2 separate regions of the Homo sapiens genome follow, and region 2 is linked to region 1. The links come from fine-mapping of genetic effects on gene expression. Tissue or cell type: whole blood. Region 1 holds a variant in brackets; the other region holds the start of a gene. All regions are shown on one strand. Distances are between the middles of the regions.

Evidence for each region. PIP is the estimated chance that this variant, and not a neighbour inherited with it, causes the effect.
Region 2: it holds the start of ACP3, and the variant in region 1 is fine-mapped to the expression of ACP3 in whole blood (INTERVAL, PIP above 0.99).

Annotation. Positions count from the first base shown.
Region 1 is chr3:132,257,343-132,260,107 of GRCh38, reverse strand. No RefSeq gene overlaps it. Among named protein-coding and RNA genes, the nearest start is that of TRC-GCA9-1, 27 kb to the right of the region's middle. The variant G/C (reference allele first, on the strand shown) is at 1,391.
Region 2 is chr3:132,316,214-132,318,978 of GRCh38, reverse strand. It overlaps ACP3 (acid phosphatase 3), which reads right to left and starts at 1,572. Exons shown (of 10, transcript NM_001099.5): 1 at 1,403-1,572. The coding sequence starts at 1,522.

The DNA.
Region 1 (2,765 bases):
TAAGGAGGAGAGTATTTACATAAATGTGTCAGGGTTAAAGAAACCAATAAGAGATGAGTTACCCAGAACTAGCAACAGTAGTAAGCCTCATTACTCAGTTGTGAGGGGGAAGGTAGACTCTTTCCAGACCTTTGATAAAGGGGCTGCTCAAAAAAGCCACGACCTTGGGCCTCTGCTAAAACCATGGCTTTAAGTAAGGAGGGAGCAGATATATAAAAATCCTTATCCCTCTTTCTAATCTCTTATGTCCTGTGAGTGTCACCCATTGAGTAAACCCAAGTGGAAGTCAGCAGGAAAGTAGCTGGGATGATGCAGTCTTTACAGGTAAGCCTTTTGGAAGCACAGAACAATGGACAGAAGGGCAACTAATAGATCTACAGGGGTGCCCTGAAAGTGATCAGCAGAGAGACTTAGCTATTGATTTCAATCTCTCCCGTCCTCTCATTGGTATATTTAAGGTTATATATTTCCTTTTAAGTACTATTTTAGCTGCATTTCATAAATTATAAAATGAGGTAGTCCATTATTATTCATTGCCGAATATATTGTAAGTCCTATTAAGATTTCTTCTATAACCCATGAAGTATTTAGATGTATGTTTATTTCCATACATAAGCGGTTTTGTGTGTTTGGTATTTATTTCTAACTTAACCACATTGTGATCTGAGCTAGTGTGTCTGACACTAATTCCTGGGAAGTTTTTGAGACTTTATTTCCAGTCCAGTACATAACGATTCTCTCTGTGTTTGAAAAGATTGGGTGTTTTGGTTGTAGTATTCTGTGTATGTCAGTTAGTCCTCAATAGATCAAGCTTCTTATGATTTATTCAGATTTTCTATGTCTTTACTGATTTTTGTCTTGATCTGTCAATTACAGAGATAGGTGTATTGAAAACTGTCATTATGATATATTTTTTCATTTCTCTTGTTTTCTGTCAACCTTTGCTAATACATTTGAAAAATATTTTATTAGAAAGAATTTAGTCAGTATTTCTTCCTGGAGAATGCATCTCTTTAAAATATGTGCCGACCATCTTATCTTTTGTTTTTCTTTCTGTCTAAAAGTCTATCTTGATGGACAATAATGTAGCTCTACTAGCTTTATTTTGGTTAATATAATAGTGACATTTCTTTTCATCTTGGCTCTTTCATCTGGAATCACTTTTCTTCTGTAGGATGAACATTCATTACAAATTTCTTTAGTGAGAATCTGTTGGTCCATCTGTTAGGCATTTGAAAATGTCTTTACTTGTTCCTGTTTTTCAAAAATGTCTTTCTTTAACATGTAATTCTGAGTGAACATTTATTCCTCAAGGGAATTATTTTCCTCTTTACTCATTTCCAAGTTTTAAAGTGCAATTTTCCTTGCAATTTCTGGGAGTTTGGATAGG[G/C]GGATCACTGAGGGCTAAGTGTAGGTTGAACCATGGAAAATTGTTTTTCATAAGTCAAAAATAATCAAATATTGGCAATTTCTTATGGCTTAACCTTAATTGTCTACCCTTATGCTCAAATTGGATACCTTTGGGAAATCCTAGCTTTAGATAGAGGTGTTTGCTATAAGATCATCCATGTTGTTTGGGCTGTGGGTTTTGTCACCTGTCCTCCATATTCTATGAGGCCATGGAAACAGAAAATCAGTAACTTGACCAGGCAAATGACTTCAAGGTAAGAGCCAACTTTAATATTCAGTTTACTTCTTCTCGTTTTTATTTTGGCCTCTAACTATTCCTTGGTTTCTTGCAAGCTTATCAATATACTTAAAAGATATTTTGAATATTTTAGTGGCATCATTTAGTTTTCAGTGGGAGTGGTAATGGATGCAGTCTGCCATACTGCCAAAAAAAGAAGTGCTTCTCTTTGTCCTTTCTTCTCATACATTTTAAAATTGAGGTATATTCCACACAGCATAACATTCACTCATTTATTTATTTATTTATTTATTTATTTATTTATTTATTTATTTTGAGATGGAGTCTCGCTCTGTCACCCAGGCTGGAGTGCAGTGGTGCAATCTCGGCTCACTGCAACCTCTGCCTTCCGGGTCCAAGCGATTCTTCTGCCTCAGCCTCCCGAGTAGCTGGGACTACAGGTGCGCACCACCATGCCTGGCTAATTTTTGTTATTTTTAGTAGAGATGGGGGTTTCACTATGTTGGCCAGGCTGGTCTTGAACTCCTGACCTTGTAACCCACCTGCCTCAGCTTCCCAAAGTGCTGGGATTACAGGCGTGAGCCACCGCACCCAGCCACATTGACTGTTTTAAAGTATGCGATCCAGTGCTTTTTAGTGTATGCACAAAGTTACGTAAACATCACCATTATCTGAATGGAAAACAGTTTATCATCACCAGAAGAAACTGTACTTGTTAGCAATCACTCTCTATTTCCCCTTCCCCCAGTTCTTGGTAACCACTAGTTTACTTTCTGTTTTTATAGATTTGTCTATTCTGGACATTTAATATTAGTGGAACCACACAATACGTTGGTCTTTTGTCACTGGCTTCTTTTATTTAACATCATGTTTTCACAGTTCATCCGTGTTGTAGCATATATCATTAATCCATCCATTTTAATGGCTGGATAATATCCATTGTATGGAGACACCACATTTTGTGTATCCATTCCTCAGTTGATGGACATTTGGGTTTTTTCTACTTTTTGTCTTTTATGAATAATGTTGCTATGAACATTTGTAAACATGTTTTTATGCCAACCTATGTCTTCAATTCTCTTGGGTATGTACTTAGACATGGAATTGCTCACTCATC
Region 2 (2,765 bases), 59 kb before region 1:
TAGTCAAAGGAAGTTAGCCTGGGCTAACTTGGGTAAAACATGGAGGAGGGAATACATCATGTACAGTGAGCTTGGAGTAACTTGGATTTCTCAGAGGACTGCCACTCAACCAGCTTGTCACAGGTTTACAGTATTACAAGCACGGCAGATGCAGTACAATTTCTACAGTCCCTAAACTTGCCTCATGCACATGTTAGCAAGAAAACTACTGATAGAAGTACAAGCCTAGCTCACATGGGTTTCCCTAAAGAAGGCACACAGTATTATATATTTTTTTTCTGCACAGAAGTCTGACAGCTGGTGAATCATTTGTAAATAAATTGATAGTTTGTTTCACTGGGTTTTCTGTCATTGTTGACTCATGACCTAGTAAGGATTTACTGGACTATAAGAATAATGATTCAAATAAGCACATGGGTATCATATTTTCTGTAGAAAGTAAAGAGCTTTGAATATCCCATGCTGAAAAAAAAAAAAGCCTGAACTTTAATTTTTAAGGAAACAGTGACTTTCCTTCAAATTATAAAAATAATTTTTGAGTATTCTTGACAGAAAGAAAATTTACCTACTTATCAGCCCACTTTCACTATCTCAAATAAAAAAATGTAGGGAAGAGAAAGAAAACGAGAGAGGAAAGGCAAGAAGCAGCTTAGAGGCTTAGAGGCAGAGAAAGAGTGAAACAGAAGGAAAAAAAGATACAGAAACAGAAAATCAGACTCTTAGGTAACATGATGAATCCCCTTCACTTTGCAAACCCTCTTTCCATCTATTTTCAAACAATGTCAACAGTATATTTTCTTTTCTTGATATTATGCATCAGCCACCCCCCACCTTTTTTCATAACTGGTCACATGTGCCAATGATTTTAATCGTCAACTAAATCTATATATCAGAAAATCATCCTAAAATTCCAAATTTAGATTCACTTTTATGCTTCAAGGTTGTTTACAAATAGTTGTTCTAATTTCCTGATAAACAAAGGTGAAAGGACTACTTAATTCAGAAAATGACTGTTTTTTGGCTTGCAAACAAATAATGATTAAATTGAATGAAGCCAGCTCTTGGTACATAAACAGCGCCAGCTGTGGTTTCTTCTGGACTGGTGTGGCTGTCAAAAGGAATCTGAATTCAAGGCAGTTGTAAAGTAAGTAAATAAATAACATCAGCAAAAGCAAATAAAAAGCAACCCCTAAAAAAACAGCGACCAAAAAATATTTTTGTTAGGACACGTTAGGTCTTCATTAAGAGGAACTTGCAAAACTTGATTATTCACTTTCTGAGTTTGAACAGAGCCTGGTCTCTGGGAAACAATCCAAGGATAAGATGAAACCTGACGCTTGCCTTATCAGACTTTGCTGGGAACACAGTTTTAAGGAAAAAGCAATGAGAAAAGTCTACTTACCAAAGTCACAAACTTCAACTCCTTGGCTAGTACACTTCGGTCTAGCCAGAAAAAAAGCAGAAACAAGAAGCCAAGGCTAAGGCTTGCTGCCCTGGCCAGGAGGAGGGGTGCAGCTCTCATGTTGAGGAGAGCTGTTTCTGGCAGGAGTTAGGAGGAACTGCTACCACTTCAAAAGCCTGTAGAGGGGAAGCTATTTAATTAAGGGATTGAAAGGGAAGGAGGAGCCACACTCATAAGTAGTAAAGTTTCCAGGAAGCGTAGGGCAGGTTTGGTATGTAAATAATGTCATGTAAATTTTGAGCTGAGAGAGATCACAGTTTCCCCATTTAAGTTAGGACACCAAGGCCAAGAGCGGGGAAAGCTGTTGATCAAGGTCACAGAGCATGTTAGCAGACATTTCTATCCTTGTTTTCAGTTTACTTTTATCTTTGTTTTTTGTTTTTTTTTTTTTGAGACAGAGTCTTGCTCTGTCATCCAGGCTGGAGCACAGTGGCACAATCTCAGCTCACTGCAAACTCCGCCTCCCAGGTTCAAGCAATTCTCCTGCTTCAGTCTTCCTGAGTAGCTGGGATTACAGGCGTGCACCACCACACCCGGCGAATTTTTGTATTTTTAGTAGAGACGGGGTTTCACCATGTTGGTTAGGCTGGTCTCCAACTCCTAACCGCATGATCCGCCTGCCTTGGCCTCCCAAAGTGCTGAGATTACAGGCATGAGCCACTGTGCCAAGCCAGTTTACTTTTATCTTTTCTTTAGATAGGGTATGATACAGCGTTGGATTTGTGGCTGTCACTTGGGAAAGGGATCTACCCTGACTTTAGAAACCTTAGACCAGTGATTCTTAATCTGTTGGGAGTCCAAAGTTATAGGACTGAAATCTGGAAGGAAATACAGGTGTTGACATATTTGGGGCCTATTTCCATGCCAAACATGGCTACTTTTTCAAAAACTCTCATGTAGCCTATAGAGGTATTTTTAAATTAAAGAAGAAAAGTAACAGCAAGTTTATTTTGAAAAATTTTAGGCTGGGCGTGGTGGCTCATGTCTGTAATCCCAGCACTTTGGGAGGCCGAGGTGGGCAGATCACTTGAGGTCAGGAGTTAAGACCAGCCTGGCCAGCATGGTGAAACCCCATCTCTACTAAAAATACAAAAAAAAAAAATTAGCCTGGCGTGGTGGCACATGCCTATAGTCCCAGCTACCTGGGAGGCGAGGCAGGAGAGTCACTTGAACCCAGGAGGTGGAGGTTGCAGTGAGCCGAGATTGTGCCACTGCACTCCAGCCTGAGTGACAGAGCAAGACTCCATCTCAAAACACAGCAAAACAAACAAACAACAACAAAAAACAAACAAAAGAAAAATTT